Homo sapiens: one gene and its partners. The protein of the gene in region 1 purifies or fractionates together with the protein of each later gene. This does not show direct contact. Each region holds a gene or a part of one and is shown in the gene's direction. Other genes may lie near its edges.

Region 1 (7,032 bases):
GCAATTTTATTGCAGTCCCTACCTTCCAACAACAGGCTGATTGCTTCTGCATCATTCTTTTAAACATTTAACTTTTATGCTCAATTTTACTAAATTTATATATACTCAAATGCATGTCTACCCATTAAATTACAAATGGAGAGTAACGACTTTTCAGATTATTTGGGGGAGGAACTTATATTATTCGAACAACTCCAAATAATAATGAATATGTCACTCTGCAATGGGAATTTGATTAGTTAACTCATTTGAAGTGTGGGACTAGTGAGGATGATGGGATTGGAAAGAGACCTGGGCCTTGGGTTCAAATCTCGCTTCTGCTACTTAGAAATGGGTGAACTTGGGCAAGTCTGACTCTCGTTTTCCATTTCTATAAAGTGGACGTGATAATACCCTACTTAACTCACAAGCTAAGTAGGGTAGCTTCTGAGTTACCCTACTCACATAGTCTATATGTATGTATTTTAAAAAAACAGACTGATTATTATTGTTCCCCCAAACTACCTCCCCCCTCCTCATGTAGGCCATTTAGACATATTTTCTTTAGTGGCACCAAGCTGTATTTTCCAAACCACTTAGTTTTCTTGCACTTTCATTCCTTAATTTAGTTAAGTGCGTGAGGAATGAGTGAAAATCCTGAGCAGGTACTGATGAATCAGCGGTGGTGCAGAAGTACTGTCTGCATTCGTAAAAGATGGTAACATTTCTTTGCCAAGGTGAAACTCTTTCAGTGATGGCAGATGTGTGGCAGGTATGCAGCTTTTACTTTCTTTTCTTCCTTGTGATCATGGAAGCCAGTGCTAATTTCTTAGTGGATCCCTATAGCTCAGAATCCTTTGCAACATTGTACCCCAGGAGCCGTTACCTGTTATTAGGCTTGACATTCAAGTTGAAATCTACTTGACATATAGTAACAGTAGAATCTGTATGCTTAAAGCAGACCCATGTTTGTTTGTTTGTGGTTTTTTTTTTTTTCACTCAAAAGGACCTTGTGTTCATTTTGTTAATAGATAAGAAAACTAACACCCAAATAAATGAAATTACTTGCCCAAAGTCGTAGCAGTTGAGGTCATAGCACAGAGCCATAAGTAGAAGCCAGGTCCTTTGACCTGGTTTAATGCTGCTCTCCCTCTGCCCACTACATTCTCCTGTAATTTTTAAACCAGAATTTGTTTGGTTTCTGAATGGCAGTGAGTTTCTTCTTCTTGAGTTAATTCTGAATACTGCATACTGAATGGAACCTGGGGCAGAAAGACTTGGATTTGAATGTGTCTTATCTGTTATATGAACTTGGGGAAGCCACTTAATTTCAGTTACCTTATGGCTAAAATAGAGTGAGTAATAGCAACCTTATAAAGTTGTTAGGTGAAATAAGAAAAGGTATGCAGGTGCCTACATGAGTCCGAGTTCTTTTGTTTGCAAGTAATAGTAACCTAATGTAAATTAACCTGAACAAAGTGGGAATACCTTAGCTCATATAACTGGAAAATTCAGGGATAGAGCTTCTTTCTCTAGCTCTTATCCATAAAGCCCAGGAAGGAAATCTAGTTGGTTCTGCTTGATCCTCTGCTCTCTCTTACAGTAGTCATTATAGCCAGAGGAATGTTTCTTTAATTGGTCAGGTCTATGTCCACCTCAATCTGTGGTTAATAGGTGGCTTGGATGCTATGTAGCCCCCACCAGAATCATGGAAAAGGCAGTGCCCTGTCTGGGAATAGGGAGTAAGGAATGTTGGGCAAGCAAAAGCAACAAAAACATCCCTCACAGTGCCTGGGACAGTGCCTGATGTGCCTTCACCTTGCCTGCCTGGCTGTCTTCAACTCTGTGGGGAATGAGAAACTAGAAAATGCAGGAGTTTATAATGACAGGTTCTGGGGTGAGGATAGGCCTAGAGATGCCTCATAGTGGCAGCTCTTCTATTCTCTTACTGACTTATAAAGGTTACAGGAGCCAGGGGGGGCTACCACACAGGTAAGCAAGAAACCCGTAAGCACCGAACTGCTGTGCAGAGGCAGCAGGGGCTACTGAAGAGCACCGCACAGGAAAGCAGGAACCCATGTTCTAGCCGCAGGTCTGCCAGTAAGTGGGCTGCTCATGTGATTTCTCTGGGCCTCAGTTTCCACATTAGTAAAACTGAAAGCTTCGATTAGATAACTGCAGAGATTTCTTGTAGAATAAGGACACTTTGATTCTAAATAAGGTAATAATGATCCTGAATTGCTGGGAACTCTATTTTCAGATTAGGCATGCAGATGAGATTTTGTTCTTGATAATACATTCTTTTGTGGAAGCTAAACTTCGTTTTTTATTTACTTATTTTTAGGAATTGATTATCTTGAATCTTTGGCTGAAATTCAGAGTTCTTGGAGTGGCCCAAAGCCAGATGATCTGGCCCTGCTCCCTCTCTGGCCTCACCTCCTCTCCCCCTCCTTTTGCTCACTCTACTCCAGCTATTCTGGCCTCTTTCATTTTCTCACATGCATCAGGCACATTTCCCGCTTAGAACCTTTGCATCCCTCTACCTGGAACACTTTTCTCCTAGATTCCATATGGCTTGATCTCTCAGTTCCTCAGGTCTCTGGTTAAATGTTGCCTCCGTGAGGCCTTCCTTGAATGCCCTGCGTAAAGTGGCCTCCTTTTTCTGTCCCTTCCCCTAGCAGATCATATATCCATTTATTTGTTGTTTGTCTACTCGAATATATGTTTTCTGAAAATGAAGAACTTTGTGTTGTTAGCACTGAATCTGTAGCTTCTAGAACAGTGTGGGGATGCAGGTGCTTAATAAATACTTCTTGAATTAATGAATAACTGTTAATCTACTGTCTCTCTCAGTTTTGGGGCTAGGTGATCTCTGTCCAAGGCTCATTGCAGTTCTAAAGCTCTGTGATACTCACATGATTCTTGAATATTACATGATGCACATTTATACTTAGTCCGGTATTAAGAGTAAACATTCAGTAAATAGTAGCTTTTATTACTAAGATTCCGTTCCTCCCTCAACACATTTACATTCTAGTGGAAAAGCAGACACAGGTAGCACAACAACTCAGGTATGAGTAACAACTGTAACTTTTTTAGCATTGATTCCCCAGGTCCTCCTTGATTTCCTTTTCAGAGGCAGTGTTGACTTTCTGTGCCAGTGTTGGGACCCAAAGGTTGAGCTGGGACCACCTGGATTATAAATTTTACCTAAGGGTTGAGTATAATCATAGTTAGGGGATTTCAGTTGAGGGAGCATGATTCAAAGAAGCAGTATCATGCAACAGGTACAGTGAGTCCATGAGAGGCAGGAAGGACAGGAGATAGGGCCAAACCATACAGAAGTAGGATTGGGAAACAATGGAGGTTTAGAATGCAAGCTGTGAACAGAGCATGAGTGTGCTGAATCATATAGATTTCTTTTTAAATATGGCAGGAACCTTTTAGCTAATGAAATAAGGAGCAGCTTTGGTAAAAGCTGGAGTGAGAGGTTTGGGGAGAGAGGTTCATTCGCCAGCCTACTACCCTTCTGTTACCTTCCCCCTCTCCTTGAGGAACCCCTAGGAACCAACCAGAGGGCCCAGAGACACACAGTTTAAAAACCACTGCTTTAATGCTCTCCAGGGCCTGTTTTAGCTTCATGATGCTGTGTTTTTATGGATTGCAATAACTGAGTGTGTACTATAAGGAGAGCTCAGCACTGCAGAGTTTTCATGAGATTGTGAGTCCTTTGTGTGGATTACACTTCTGAATTTTGCCCAAGACTTAGGAGGACTGTAAGTTTTGAAATGTATTTATTCAATAATTGATTTATACCATCATCCAATAAACACTGAACATCTGGTGTGTCAGGCATTGTGGGGCCATAAAAAAACTATGAGGCATATTAACCTGTTCTTTGAAAAGATAGATAAAGGATACCTAAATCTCTTTAGGGGAGAATCAGTGGAAACCTCAAAGTGATCATCAAACTTGGCTTTTAAGGAGAAAAACCATTCCACCAGACGTAGGTAGAAGGGATGGGTGTGAGCAAAGGCAGTGGCACACAACAGTAGGGCAGTTTGGGGCCAGAGGCAAGACTGGTGTGACTAGAGCCCTTTTCTGGAGGAGGCCCGGGTGAGGGTCAGAGTGTCAGGGGGTGAGGTTGTACTGAAGTAGGTTAGAGCAGGGGTCCACAAACTGGCCCACAGGCCAAATCCGGCCCACTGCCTAGTTGTGTAAATAAAGTTTTATTGGAATATGTCATTTTCATTTGTTTAAATATAGGCCAAGAATGCTTTCATGCTGTAGCAGCAGAGCGATAGCCTGCAGAGGCCTGCAAAACTTAAAATATTTACTGTATGACCCTTTAGAGAAAAAGTTTGCCAACTCTTAGATGAGAGCGTTGTTAGCAGTGCTGAGGAGTTTGTACTTTATGCTCTGGGCTATGCGGCAGAGGCACGAAAGGATCATGTTTGTATTTTAAACTAATCCGCAGTGTTGATGATGGGTTTGGAATGTAACAAGACTGACATGGAGAGCTAAGCAGGATGCTGTTGCAGTAATTCAGGTGAAACTGAGGAGCCGGTGACAGTAGGGTTGGATGGGAGAAAAATAGATGAAGTAGGTATTTAGTATTTAGTAGGTAGGCTCAACAAACTTAGTAAAACTTAGTAACTAATTAGTGGAAATAGAAAGAGGAGGAGGTAGAATAATTTCCAGCTTTCTGGTTGAAAAGTTAAATGGTAGAAGATTACAATAACAGAGTTTTCAGGGTTAGAGTTGAGTGCCAGTTATTCATGCCTTCTTCTTAATTCTAAATAGTAGAGAATAGATCCAAGGAGCCCATGGACACTGGAGTTTTATTAAGACAGCATGTGGTGGATAACTCCCCAGCAGCAGTGCTTACTGATAAACCTGGATTGAGGAACTCAATGGGGTCCTTCAGCTTTGCCACATTTAGACCTTGGAGACAGTTGAGTACAAAATAGATACCCAGTGCCTATGTACCTATGCCCAGCCAGTTGCATGGAGATTGAGACCTGTCTCAGCAATACGGCCATCACTAGGCTGGGACTTATGGTGGCGAGAAGTACAAGGAGGTAGAAACTTAGGATGGCCCGTGTGGATGCCAGGTTCTCTCCTGTTATTCTCAGTTCTGCTTTCTTTATTCTTGAATGAAACTCATCTTGGGGTTAATGATTATATCACATGTTGTAGAAGCATGATTCTCAGGGATAGTTGATTCATTTTCTCCTGCATTCCATGAAGAATCTGGAGTGTGTCAAAGAGTTCCCTCTTTCCTCACTTTTGAGTTGGCAGTTGACCAATTATTATGTGTCTCACCTACTAGGGTAGGGCTGCAGAAACACGTCTTCTCAGTGTGACGTTTTTAGTGAATTCTTCCCATCAGGGGCTGGCTTCATTTTGGAGGCCCAAGAACCAGATTTTTCTACATATTGAGGCTAGAGCCATCTGTTAGGGCAGATATCAGCCAAGCTCACGTCAACTTGTGTGTAAGTCAGAATACCAGTTAATTTGTTGTAAGCACTGTAACTAATGTGCAGAAGAATACAGATTTTGGAAACTCAGTCATTTTTGAGCTTCTGCTATAGGTCAGGAACTCGGTTAAGGACTTTATGTGCCCGATCTCATTTAATTTTTCTCTTTTTCAGGGGATAGAAATATATTATTGAGTGATTTTATAATATTGATTGTATTATGAATAATGTGGTTGTTGAATTCATGTAAACTTGATGTTTGACGTCTCTTACTACATGGAAATCCACATGGACTCCCTCTGGTGGGTAAAGTATCAGTGAAGTCTACACATGTTAATTATGGCTTATGGTATGAAAACCATTTTATGTTTAAAGCGTATTACATTTAATATTGACTTAAAAAGAGGCAACTTCAAAACTCCTCTAAAAGAAAGTGAATAAACCAGAGGAATGAAAGTATGATATATTGAATGAACCCAATAACTCAGATATGGAAAGCTTGCAGCACAGTTGAAATTTTAAACCCGGCAATACTTTTTTCTTTGTTACAGACTTTCAGATCCTCAAAGACTATGAATACTAAAGTTTGCCAGCTTCTACTTATCACCATCTAACATATGTCTGTTTGTCAAAATGTTCTTACCATGGAATTTGTAAGCTGTATTTAACCAAGAGAGAGACACTTCCATTTCACAATATTGTAACATTTCTATCTAATTTGTAGTCAAATGATAAGAAAACTCTGGTGAAATGAACACTTGCCTTTTCTTGGACATTTTCTCCAGCAGTGAATTCTATAGTCTTAGCAGAAGTAACAGGCTACAGCATATCTTAACTCAGAGGAATTGAGAAAGGAATTAAAAAGTGTACGTTTCGAATTGTAAATACTTTTGGCCTTTGCCAATAGCTTACTATGTGATCTTGGAGAACTCACCTAACCTCTCTGGGTGTCACTCTTCTGATTTTTTTAATGAGAGGTTTTGACTAGATAATCCATAAGGACCTTTTCAATGAGATGGTTGCATGACTCAGTACTCTTTATCTGAAAGTCCCAGGATGTATTTTTAAATACTTTTTGCAGTGATAACTGCCCATTACCTTGTGATATTTTCCCTGAGTCTCTGAAAGAGTGAGGTTTTTTTTTTGTTTTGGTTTGTTGTTGTTGTTGTTGTTTTCAAAGTTAGCATTTTTGGTGTGTTTTCACAAATGTATTTGATTTAAAAGTGGTGATATAATTTTATAATGGAATTTTATTAGCAGGGCACATTTTTGAAGTTGACTATTTTAAAATCTGATTATAAAATTAGTAAGTGCTCATTAAACAGAATAAAGAAGAAAATAGTTCACATTTAGTACCAGTGTCAGGAAATAGCCATAGTTAAAATTCTGGTGTTTAACTTTCCAAACATTTTTTCTGTTAAATAAAATCAAGATTCTTCTACAATACGGTTATGTAATCCCTCTCCATATGCCCTCCCCTCTTCCTTGGGGGAGTAGAGAGGGGTTACATAACAGTATTGTAGAAAACAATGTATTTTGGAAATTTTTAAATATCAGTATGTATTGCTCTTAC
Region 2 (6,064 bases), on another chromosome or scaffold:
TGCTGTTGTGAATAGTGCCGCAATAAACATACCTGTGCATGTGTCTTTATAGCAGCATGATTTATAATCCTTTGGGTATATACCCAGTAATGGGATGGCTGGGTCAAATGGTATTTCTAGTTCTACATCCTTGAGGAATCGCCACACTGTCTTCCCCAATGGTTGAACTAGTTTACAGTCCCACCAACAGTGTAAAAGTGTTCCTATTTCTCCACATCCTCTCCAGCACCTGTTGTTCCCTGACTTTTTAATGATTGCCATTCTAACTGGTGTGAGATGTATCTCATTGTGGTTTTGATTTGCATTTCTCTGATGGCCAGTGATGATGAGCACTTTTTCATGTGTCTGTTGGCTGCATAAATGTCTTCTTTTTAGAAGTATCTGTTCATATCCTTCGCCCACTTTTTGATGGGGTTGCTTTTTTCTTGTAAAGTTGAGTTCTTTGTAGATTCTGGATATTAGCCCTTTGTCAGATGAGTAGATTGCAAAAATTTTCTCCCATTCTTTAGGTTGCCTGTTCACTCTGATGGTAGTTTCTTTTGCTGTGCAGAAGCTCCTTAGTTTAGTTAGATCCCATTTGTCAATTTTGGCTTTTGTTGCCATTGCTTTTGGTGTTTTAGACATGAAGTCCTTGCCCATGTCTATGTCCTGAATGGTATTGCCTAGGTTTTCTTCTAGGGTTTTTATGGTTTTAGGTCTAACATTTAAGTCTTTAATCCATCTTGAATTAATTTTTGTATAGGGTGTAAGGAAGGGATCCAGTTTCAGCTTTCTACATATGGCTAGCCAGTTTTCCCAGCACCATTTATTAAATAGGGAACCCATTCCCCATTTCTTGTTTTTGTCAGGTTTGTCAAAGATCAGATGGTTGTAGATGTGTGGTATTATATCTGAGGGCTCTGTTCTGTTCCACTGGTCTATATCTCTGTTTTGGTACCAGTACCATGCTGTTTTGGTTACTGTAGCCTTGTAGTATAGTTTGAAGTCAGGTAGTGTGATGCCTCCAGCTTTGTTCTTTTTGCTTAGGATTGACTTGGCAATGCAGGCTCTTTTTTGGTTCCATATGAACTTTAAAGTAGTTTTTTCCAATTCTGTGAAGAAAGTCATTGGTAGCTTGATGGGGATGGCATTGAATCTATAAATTACCTTGGGCAGTATGGCCATTTTCAGGATAATTGATTCTTCCTATCCATGGGCATGGAATGTTCTTCCATTTGTTTGTGTCCTCTTTTACTTCGTTGAGCAGTGGTTTGTAGTTCTCCTTGAAGAGGTCCTTCACATCCCTTGTAAGTTGGATTCCTAGGTATTTTATTCTCTTTGAAGCAATTGTGAATGGGAGTTCACTCATGATTTGGCTCTCTGTTTGTCTATTATTGATGTTTGGGAATGCTTGTGATTTTTGCACATTGATTTTTGTATCCTGAGACTTTGCTGAAGTTGCTTATCTGCTTAAGGAGATTTTGGGCTGAGATAATGGGGTTTTCTAGATATACAATCATGTCATCTGCAAACAGGGACAATTTGACTTCCTCTTTTCCTAATTGAATACCCTGTATTTCTTTCTCCTGCCTGATTGCCCTGGCCAGAACTTCCAACACTATGTTGAATAGGAGAGGTGAGAGAGGGCATCCCTGTCTTGTGCCAGTTTTCAAAGGGAATGCTTCCAGTTTTTGCCCATTCAGTATGATATTGGCTGTGGGCTTGTCATAAATAGCTCTTATTATTTTGAGATACGTCCCATCAATACCTAATTCATTGAGAGTTTTTAGCATGAAGGGCTGTTGAATTTTGTCAAAGACAAAAGGCATTTTCTTAAGTTCATTTTTGGATTCCTCATTCCAAGTGCATAAAAATCCAACCGATTTTTATGTTGATCTTACGTTTCACAGCCTTGCTGAGTTTATTAGTTCCAATTGTTTTTAATGGATTTTTAGAAGTTTCTATATACAAGATCATGTTATCTATTAATAGAGATAGTTTTGCTTCTTTTCTATCTTCTGCAACTGCCCTGGCTAGAACCTTCAGTACATTGTTGAATAGAAGAGGCAAGAGCAGACATCCTTGTCTTCTTTCTCATCATACGGGCAAAGCATCTAGTCTTTGACCATTATATATTTTATTACATTATTCATAGATGCCCTTTAGATCCATTAAATTTTTAGTAGCTACTAAGCTCCCCAGTTTATTGTCCTGAGAGGATTTTTAAATCCCTTTTAGTTTTTTTGTCCTGAATAATCCTAATCTTTTCCCTACCATTCAGCCCTATTAAGAAGGAACTGAGCTAGGTCTATGACAGCCTTCCTCACATCATTAGAAACCTGTGTCAGTACAGTCTCGTAGTATGAAACTAAACATGCGACTATGCCTACATGAGACTGGCAATACAGAATTAACTAACATGGCCCTTGGTTTATACTAGTCCACAACATAAGGGGCAAGTGCCAGAAAATACTGCTGTAATTCTGATTTATTTAGTAATGTTGTTAATCTAACTCACAATGTAAATGCTATTTGGTATAACTTTGGTATAATTGGTAAAAAATAATTTGACTGATTTTATCAAAACATTTGATAATACTAATATTGATGAATTGGGAACTTGACTTAAAACCACAAGGTATTCTCTTGATGGAAGGTGATTGGTTAGAGAAAGAACTACACTGAGTTAATTTTACATTGAATCAATATACTGGTACATTTTATAAAGTTCGATTTTTTTTTCTTTTTTTTTTTTTGAGACAGAGTCTCATTCTCTCACCCAGGCTGGAGTGCAGTGGCGCAGTCTTGGCTCACTGCAACCTCTGCCTCCCGAGTTCAATCAATCAGTTCTCCTGCCTTAGCCTCCTGGGTAGCTGGGATTACAGGCATGCGCCACCACACCTGGCTAATTTTTGTATTTTTAGTAGAGATGGGGTTTCACCATGCTGGCCAGGCTGGTCTCGAACTCCTGACCTTGTGATCCACTTGCCTCGGCCTCCCAAAGTGCTGAGATTACAGGCATGAGCCACTGCGCCCAGCCCATAAAGTTCAATTTTTAACTGACAGAGTAAGTAAAGGGGTCATCAAGCTTGTACATGATTAAGAACAAGTTTGCACTGGAATGTTTGGTAAACTACAGTGTTTCTTTAAAATTACACCTACACTTCATTGGATGGCTAAAAACGATTAGAAAAGAATGATGATGAGTAATTTGGTTAAGAAAGCTTGGTCCAGGGTGGGGACTGTACAAGTCAGGATTAATCTCAACTGGGCTACTGTACCCCTGTGCTTATCTCCAAGAATACCAGGATCCATGGTGCTGATGTTTAGCCAAACCTGAATGAAGTATTAACTAGTGATGAATTCTGGGCCTGGGCTAGAGACTACGATAAACCAGGGGGCAACCTTGGGCTGGCTTGCCAGCATTGTTTAATAGAAAATGTAAAGATTGATTTTACATTTTTCACCTGGTTTCTGTCATGTTCCCTTGGTTTCTGCAGTTGAGCCTGGTCATGCTGGTCATGCAGCCCAATTTTGCCTACCTGACCAGAGAGGCATAAAAGACCTCTCCTTGAACAAGAATCAGGTTCTCCTGGGAGCTATGCCTAGAAGTTCTGGACCCCTCTAATGTTTCCCTGTGCCTGCTTTCTCCTTGCATACTGTGACCTCTACCTTTAATTAATGCCTGTTAGCCACAAGAATCCCAATTATATGACCCATATACCATCTCATTTTGAAAAAAATATGAGTTGTGGCTTTTGTTTTATTTATTCTCAGAGATGGCCATCTAGGACATGTATTCAGCCAACAATATTTGCTCAGCTTATACATCACAGAGTTGTGTTACAAAGCCATCATTCCTCTGTCCTTTGATGAATCCTCAAATTACTTTGTTCTAGAATAAACTTTTTTATATTACAAAAGAAATCTCATGAATTTACCTTCAGGTTCACGATACATACAAGAAATTAGCAAATCGCTAATAGAGAAGTTTTGGCTGTTGTGATTGGGTTCCAACATTGTAACTGTGACTTTTATTCCTGATGTTGACAATGTGGAATGAGATGTATTAACTTATAAATACTGTGTTGCTCAAGTGAGACTAAAAGCACAATCCATGCCACCTGCACCATAGCCCACTTTCAGCATAAAGAAACTCGAATGTATTCTTCAAGTAGTACACATCCTACATTGGAAGAATGTTGTTCTAAGATTTTATAGGTAACTGTTGCTCCTGTGAAATTTGACAGTGAGATTCCTTCTATTTTTAGTGTAATAGGAAATGGCACCAATAGTATGCCATAGTATATATTTTGGGGGACAAAAATACTATGCTCATTTCACCACTTTATTCCTCTTTATTTCATGCAATTTTAGGTAGATGTGTATACTAAAATCCAACAGTATCCCAAAGAAAGACTGTTAAGAATAACAAAAAAACTAGCATATTAATCTCTTTTCTTGGGAATATTGAATATATTTCTTGTTACTTGTATCTAAGTTCTGACTCTGATTTTTACAGGGGAAACAAGGCAAACACATTTTATATGGCTGCAGTGAGCTTTTTAATGCTACACAGTTCATAAAACAGGTAAAGTATACATTTGTTGTTTGTTTCTGTTAACATACCCCTAGTTGCTATTGGTATTTTTCAAAAGAGAGAAAGAAAACCACTTACTCACCTGAACCAGCCGAAACCAAAGCCATCCAGCTATACCAAGATAAGGTGTTTTCATGGACGACTAAGAAAACCTTGATAAGTAATAATGTTTCCAGTAGGAGTTTGCCCATCCTTCCAGAACTGAAAGCCTTTTCTTTGGCTTTTAATGATCCTTTAGAAATACAAAAATATATGAGAACTGTCAGTAGTGTGTCACTCATGACATTTCTCTTTATATTGTCACAAAGTTAGCACTAATTTTTTTAATTCCCAGGGTTTTTCTTTTCCATCAATTGAACGTTACCTAATAATGTTTACATTTCTTTACTATGACGACGTTTATTGCAATTCCATTTTCTTTTCTTTTTCTTGGTAGAGACAGTCTCTTGCTATGTTGCCAAGGCTGGTCTCAAACTCCTGGCCTCAAGTGATCCTCCCACCTCAGCCTCCCAAATAGCTAGGATTACAGGCATGAGCCACCATGACCAGCCTTCAGTTTTAACATTTGAGTTAGTGGTGAACATTAAGATTTATTATTCTAGGAATGCAGTGAATAAAATAGGAAGTGTAATTTATTAAGGGGTTTACAAATATGTTTGAATGTTTCTTTTATGATCTTTTTTAAAAGTTTTATGTATGATTTTGTGTTTTGTTTTAGTTGTCACAACTTGGACAAAAGTAACACAGAAGAACCTTACTATGATAATCTACTTGGAATGTGGATAAATGTAAAAAGAAGAAAAGTTAGAAGAGCAATATGTTTCCTTCTCTGTAACAGTGTCCTAACAGTGAAAATCAGAGTTATTTGTTAATTTTTAAGGAAATTATATACTTAATATGTATTGATTAAAAGAAACATTTCAGAAATAAAATTTCAACATTGTTCATTTTCTCTGATAAATCAGAAAGTACTAATATAATAACTAATAGGTTATGATTGAAGCTGGTGACATTTTAAGGTTATCATATTTAAATTTTATTTGATTGGTTCGTGAGTCCCCTACTTGTATGCATTTTAATTATACAACTACTTTCTCATAGTTTGTTGGGTATCCATGTTGCCTATAGATTTTAGATGGAGATTTTAAGCCACTTTAAGTTCCCTTCTTCTGGCACACCTATGTATATTTTATCACATAAAGTCCCTCCTTCATGTAATGGTGATCAAGGCAACACTAACATGATTTGGAATGGACAAATACAAAACAGTCATCTCATAAAGTTGTAAATAATACGTAAAAGTTAGTGTTAAACTTGATTCCAAGCTTCTTTGGTATGCAGTACTGACAAGAAGTATTGATCAGTCATACCGTTCAGTACGTCTGTAAGATAAAAAGCAAGCCAATTGCTTGAAAGGGAAGAAAAATAAACACTTCCTATTATAAAGGCCAGGGAGCCTTCCCTCCTAATGAGCCTCATATCAAC
Region 3 (7,032 bases), on another chromosome or scaffold:
AGCTTTGGTTTAACCATTATGGATGTATTCTAGAACAGGTGTCCTCAATTCCTGGGCCATGGACTGGTACCAGTCTGTGGTCTGTTAGGAAACAGGCTGCATAGCAGGAGGTGAGCGATGGGTGAGTGAGCATTACCACCTGAGCTCCACTTCCTGTCAGATAAGCGGCAGCATTAGATTATCAGGGAAGTGCAAACCCTATTGTGAACTGCACGTGTGAGGGATCTAGGTTGCATGGAAAAATTGTCTTCCACAAAACCAGTCCCTGGTGCCAAAAAGGTTGGGGGACGCTGTTCTAGAAGGAATGAAGGTCAAAGCCAGTATGAGTCTCAGAAAGTCAGTGGATGTTGAAGGTGAAAATACACTGAGAGACTATTTTAAGAGGTCTATGTGGTGTTTCAGATAGATCTGGTCAGAGATACTCAAATTACAGATTTGATAAGCCAGGGTATTCATTTAACTCCTGACAAATTTTACGTATGAACTAACAAGAGTCTGAGAAAGGATTGAGCACTAGGTTTACTGAGCTGGTGCCATGACGGGTTTACCATATTCATTAATAGAGTCCTTTTATCAGACCAGAAAGGTGCCGTTACTCCTTTATGATTTTAGATAAGAAAACTTGCTCAAGGTCATTCATTTGGAATTTGACTGCATGTCTTTCTGGCTTCAAAGTCCATCCTTATACCAGTGAATTTAAGTTCCTTATAAAGAGAAAATTCATTTTCACAGAAGTTAAGTACTTGAAATTAACTGTAATCTTCTGATTATCCTTTTATCTTCTGATAAAATTACAGTTAATTATAGTTAATTTTATCTTCTGATACAAGAAGCACTAGCATATTCAGTTTTCATAATGACAAATGCTTTTAAATTTTGAGAATTTAGAAAATGTGTACAAATAATAAAAATTCATTGTAGAAAATACAGACACTATAGATAACTACAAATTAGAAAAAAATTTGTCCTCATACCACCTAGAGAGAATCTGTTATTCTTTAGATATTTTTCCATTGATATATACCTAACTGCATACACAGGTACACACATACATGTACATTTAGGATGATAGAAAGCATTGTTTTTTATAGCGTGTTAGAGGTTTTGTTTTCCGTGGGCTTTCCCATTTTAGGTATTACTGTTTTAAAAATCTTTGCTATAAAGTGTAAAATATATCTTGCTTTAATTTTTTATACAAATATTTTGGTTTCTAAGGGGTGATTATTATAACTTCTAGTCCATGGTTTCATGAAAGCTTCTTAGATTAAATTTAACATCTCAAACTGCTTTTATTTCTTGAACAGTTAGGAAATACTTGAAACTTTTGAATAACACACAAACATGGAATTTAATAAGTATATGACCCTGTAAATGTTACAGTGTATATTAGGTTATATTTAGTCTCTCATTTTAAGACTTGAGTTCTTTATTTTTTTTAATGACTCGCTCTGTAGTATATTTTAGATTTCTCATCTATAAATCTAATTTGAAAATGATTCTTAACAGCTGATTTATATTTGGCTTTGCCATTTCTTTTGATTACAGATCGTTTATTATTTTTACGCCAATACATCTGGTACAGGTGAGTCTTCGGTTCTTCAGAGAAACAGTATGAACATCAAATATAAACAATATTGTTCTATATATGATTTGTTTTCATAATTGAATTCTAGATCATGATAAAGTTGCTGACATTCAGGCAAACTCAGTATGAGACATTTCAAACATTTAGGTAGAATCTGACAAGATATCTCAGTAGACTTAGGGTAGTTTTTGTTCCCTTAGTTACTATTAAGAATGTCTCATGACAATTTCTGCTTCCTCTGATGACTATTCTCAGGCTTATCTTGAATGTCCATATGAAGCATCTGTAGCCTGCATATCTTTTAAAATACATTTTTGTTCTTGTCATGTCATCTCACTTGTGGTTAATATTCAACTGCTGTATATCAGAGAAGGTTCTTTAGGTTTCAGTTCTTGTATATTTTTTAATTCCTTGAGTGTTAAGTATATTTGCAGGGATGATGCTAATTTCCAGCTTTAGAAAGAACAAAGAAATTATTATTATGACAAAAAAGTTATAATTCTGCTTTTAGATACATGTGTAGGAATTGTTTTATAGAATTATTTACATAGATTGCTTCTTCGTTGAGGATATCTTGTCGTAAAGTTCCAGAGATAATATAGTTCCATAAAAGAGACCTTTGGCGTTCTCTAGGACTTGCTCCAACGTCTTTCTGCTTTTACTCTATGTATGTGTGTGTGTATGTGCATACATGTATATATGTATGCATATTTACAATTTCTATACTTAATTGTGTCACTTTTTTTGTGGGTGTGGGATATGATAGGATAGAGCAATGAGTAGGAAGAGAGAGTGGAAGGAGAGGATAGGAGTGTGGGAGGTGGGCTGTGTTTTCTGACTTCTCTAGGCGACAGCTTGTTAGTCCTGAACACCCTTGGATGAGGTGTCAAGCTTGTCTTGTTCAGGTTGCTGCTTGATAATTCTTTTTTTTATTTATTGAGAAGGAAGACTCAAAAAGTTAACTCTGCTACAAGCCCTGTCCTCTGTGTGAGAACCTTATGATCAGGCATCAGAAGTAGGTATCTTTTTGTCTCCCTTCCTCCTGAGAAGCCTTTTTCCTTGAATCATTGTACAGGTTGCAAATGCACCATTAAGTGATTCATCTGTCTCATGATATGCTGCTTTCAAAAAGATTATAGTTCAATTTGTGCTCTTGAGTTTATGGTAATTAAACCCAAAGGTTTTGGGGTCAGTATTTGTTTCAAGTGACTTTTTCTTCTTTTTTTAAAAAAGTTCTTTTAATTATGAAATATAAACATACTGAGAATTATTGACAATATAATAAACCTGTATCAGCTAGCTCTTTTTGTTTTTATGCAAAATGTTACATCTCAAGTCCTTTCCCTTTTTCTTTTCCCTTCCCTTCTAGAGGAAATTATCATCCTCATATAGGTAGTATTCACATACATGTTTTGTATCTTCATTATATTTTTGTAACTGTCTTTTGATATTATTTTGTGTTTTAAAAAATGAGCGTAAATGTACTACATGTATATTACTAATTTTTTTTTTTTTTTTAAGAGAGGGTCTTATTGTGTTGGTCAGGCTGGAGTATAGTGGCTATTCACAGGCAAGATCATGGTACACTGTAGCTTTAAACTCCTGTGCTCAAGCAATCCTCCTGCCTTAGCCTCCCGTGTAGCTGCGACTATAGGCACATACCATTGTGCCTGGCCACTAACATTTTGGAATCCTATTTTGTGTTTTCTGATTTCCATAATTTATTTTTTTTCTATTTCATGAAATTATGTTCTTTATTCTTCTTTTCCATCTGTTTTCTTGATTTCTTCGGGTATTAATCCTCTAATTTGCTGTGTCTGCTTACTCACTTATGATGAGTAGTTTCGTGTCTTTTGTGAATGGTTTTATTTTGAACTTATGCTTGCAGATTCTTGCATCACATGAGTAAAGTGAAATTGTAATCTGATCTTACATATAGTACAGACTTGGACTTTTACTTTTTCATAGGAGATTTTATTCTTATCCTCCACAGAACCATAGTTCCAGGGAGAGAAGAGAGTCTTTAGTCTCCCTGGGCCTATGGTGAGGTGTTTCTAGTTCTTTCAATGACCTGGTGCAGTCATTTGAGCATCCTGGCCTTTGCAGGAGTCTCACTTCCAACTCCTGTCCTCTCTTTGGTTCAGTAGCTCATTTCCTATCTCGTGTGCTAAGTCCTGTTTTGAGTTCTTATCTCTCTCTTTACCCTGTGCCCAATTCTAGCTTTCAGTGACTTTTTCATTTCTAGTACTTGGAAATTTATCTTTCTTTCTTGTGAGTTTAACTCTATGCTAGAATTTGTTTTTGTTACAGTTGAGCCAGAGTTCCTAGGTAGTTAGAGCAGAAAGGGTTGGTATAAGTGTACTCTGCTCTGTGATTGGTATGCTAGATGTCTGTTACCTGGGAAGTACATAACATTTATACCTTTGAACACATCACTGTGTTTTTTGGAAATAGAGAAATATATATGGTCAAATTTCAGCTACCAAATAGTAACTTTGGGTTTTGGGTTTGCTAATATTCAAATTTTATATTCTAATGGAAAAAAATCTGTGTCTCTCTCTATAAGTATATGTGCTATTTGTCTGCATATATGTGGTTTTCATGATTAGATTTTAAGCTAACTAATGTGTTGTGATTTCAGCCCGGCACCTTTTTTGCTCCCTGATGGACTGGTTCGCTTGGTTAATAAACAGATAAACTGGCATTTGGTACTTGCAAGGTAAGGAAGTGTGAAATTCAATGTTTTTCTGTCTGGATTAGCTTTTACATTTCATTATGGACGTTAATTTTGGAATGCTTGTGGCTTTCAGTCTTGATTTTTATTGTGTGTAAATTTCTTTGTTGCAAATATTTAGTATTGTTTAAACTTTTTAGAGAGAGAGGGAAAGAGAGAGAGGGAGAGAGAGAGGGAGAGAGGGAGGGAGGGAGAGAGGAAGAGGGAGAGAGGGAGAGAGAGAGGGAGAGAGGGAGGGAGGGAGAGAGGGAGGGAGGGAGAGAGAGAAAGAGGGAGGGAGGTAAAGAGAAGGAGAGGGAGAGAGAGTGGGAGGGAGCGAGGGGGAGAGAGGGAGAGAGATGGGGAGAGTGGGGGAGAGAGAGCTTAAACATGTTAATTCATGCTGTATTAAATCATTTTGTGTGCTTTTGTACCTGTATCCTCATCTAATTGTAAGGTCAAAAGATGGATAATTAAAGCATGTGAACAAATTTAAAAATGATTTTTAACTTATTAAATAATTCCATCTGTGCTGAAAACTGCTATAGATATTCATAATAGATTTTCTTCCCCCTCTTTCTTCTCCATAAAAGCAATGGAAAGCTTTTGGCTGCTGTTCAAGATCAGTGTGTGGAAATCAGGTAATTGTTAATATTATTCATATTCAAGATTTCCTTTGAGAAATATTTGTTACTCTATAAATGGAAACTAAGATTTTTATAGGGGATATATTTAAAAGGATTTTATTATTAACTCACTTAATTTTGTGAGTGTCAAACACCAACTTACGCCAGTTAAAAAATTAAGGATGCTTTCTCAGAGTTATATGCTTATCTTTCTCCTTCCCCAGATCATTCCGTTGCCTCTTAAGAAGTTTTACTTTCTCAGTAAATGAGGCCTATCCTCCAGAACTCTGGAAATCACTGTTGTGTGACTATTTACTGCTATATTAGCTAAACAGAAACTCAGGAAGGTGTAAAAGAGTAGGGATGGTTCAGCACTTTGGGAGGCCGAGGCGGGCAGATCACAAGGTCAAGAGATTGAGACCATCCTGGCCAACGTGGTGAAACCCCGTCTCTACTGAAAATACAAAAATTAGCTGGGCATGGTGGCGCACACCTGTAATCCCAGCTATTCGGGAGGCTGAGGCAGGAGAACTGCTTGAACCTGGGAGGCAGTGAGCTGAGAACTAGTTGCAGTGAGCCGAGATTGTGCCACTGCACTCCAGCCTGGCGACAGAGCGAGACTCTGTCTCAAAAAAAAAAAAAAAAAATAGGTATGCTTTTTCTCTGTTGGTACAAAACTGTAGATGGAATATGAGTGTGCAAATGACCTAGGTTACGTATTACTTGAGACCAATTATGCTGTCTGTCCTCTTGAGACATTCAGTGGTATTATATACACATCTAAAAGACATCTCTAAGCTGGACTTTTCAGGTGTTTTATTTTTAAACAGTATATCAGTTATGAAAGAAATAGCAACAATAGCAACTGAGAAAAATGAGTTCATTCTTTGGGAAATGTTATTAGGAAAATCATATGGAAGAGGAATATATTTACTGTTCATTAAGTGGAAGTGGACCATTACAAAGGTCTTCATTATCGTCATCTTCACATGGAGTGGGCTGAGGAGGAGGAGGAGGAAGAGAAGGTGGTCTTGCCATCTCAGAGTGGTAGAGGTAGAAGAAAATCCACATAGACATGGACCTGCATAGTTGAAACCTGTGTTGTTCAAGGGTCGACTATAGTAATTCCATAATATTTCATTGGGTGCACATAGCAAAGTTTAATCTCTTTATACTGGGTATTATTTTTCTCCTTTATAAATGAGACCATACCAGTTTTTTTGATATCTGTATGTATCTGTAATTATTTCCTGGGGATAACTTTATAGAAATAGAATTGTTAGGTCAAATGCTACAGACATGAAGGTTTTGGATAATTGTTATTAAATTATTTTCTAGAAGGTTTACCAGTTTTCATTTTTAAACATATTTTATAATAATTATTCTACTTGGTATATATTTCAGGATCACAGATTTAAAATAGGTTGTTGATTTAAATATGGTGACCTATTAAGGCTGTTTGATTTCTCAAAATAAGACTTTTTCCCCTAAGTGATCAAACTTTGTAATATGATACAGACCAGTGGTTCTTAATTAGGAATGATGTATCCAGCAAAAAAATATTTTTGCTTGGGCCCCATCCCACATTTCTTGATTCAGAACCTTTGGGGATGGGGACCAGACATCTCTATTGTATGAAAAGACCACGGTAAATTCACTTAGGCTGTGTCACTATATTCCATATATATGTCTCCATAACGATGTAGCTCCGTATCTGATGCAATAAGGTTGGAAGAAAATATTGTCACTGACAAAAGGGTCATAATTGAGCCACAAAACCATGTCTGAGAGGAGATATGATTGAGCATTGTATATAGAGGCTGTCTAGTCCACAGTATCTGGTATTTTATGGTTCTATACAGTGTTACGATAAAACTTTTGCCTTGATTTTGCATGTTTTACAGGTCTGCAAAAGATGATTTTACATCCATTATTGGGAAATGTCAAGGTAAGAGTTTCCAAAATATTTAAAGAATGAAAATTTCAAATGCGCAATGGTTTCCAATGTTTCTTAAAAGTTAGAATAGATATTAAATATTTATTAACAAGGATTATCATGACTATTAAAATAATTTTTAAAAACTGCTTTTTTTTTTTTTTACTGTCTT

The links. Proteins that work in one complex are often made in the same cells at the same time.
Region 2: the proteins of STX18 (region 1) and SCFD1 purify together in Homo sapiens (affinity purification with mass spectrometry; 7 studies listed by BioGRID and IntAct, with this or other methods). This does not show direct contact.
Region 3: the proteins of STX18 (region 1) and NBAS purify together in Homo sapiens (co-immunoprecipitation; 7 studies listed by BioGRID and IntAct, with this or other methods). This does not show direct contact.

What each region holds. Positions count from the first base shown.
Region 1 is NC_000004.12:4,532,046-4,539,077, reverse strand, and holds part of STX18 (syntaxin-18), read left to right. Parts: intron 1-7,032. UniProt on the Homo sapiens protein: Syntaxin that may be involved in targeting and fusion of Golgi-derived retrograde transport vesicles with the ER.
Region 2 is NC_000014.9:30,730,289-30,736,352, forward strand, and holds the end of SCFD1 (sec1 family domain-containing protein 1), read left to right. Parts: intron 1-4,501; coding exon 4,502-4,570; intron 4,571-5,297; coding exon 5,298-5,321; 3' UTR 5,322-5,562; downstream 5,563-6,064. UniProt on the Homo sapiens protein: Plays a role in SNARE-pin assembly and Golgi-to-ER retrograde transport via its interaction with COG4. Involved in vesicular transport between the endoplasmic reticulum and the Golgi.
Region 3 is NC_000002.12:15,551,333-15,558,364, reverse strand, and holds part of NBAS (NBAS subunit of NRZ tethering complex), read left to right. Parts: intron 1-1,545; coding exon 1,546-1,582; intron 1,583-4,226; coding exon 4,227-4,304; intron 4,305-4,891; coding exon 4,892-4,939; intron 4,940-6,828; coding exon 6,829-6,872; intron 6,873-7,032. UniProt on the Homo sapiens protein: Involved in Golgi-to-endoplasmic reticulum (ER) retrograde transport; the function is proposed to depend on its association in the NRZ complex which is believed to play a role in SNARE assembly at the ER. Required for normal embryonic development.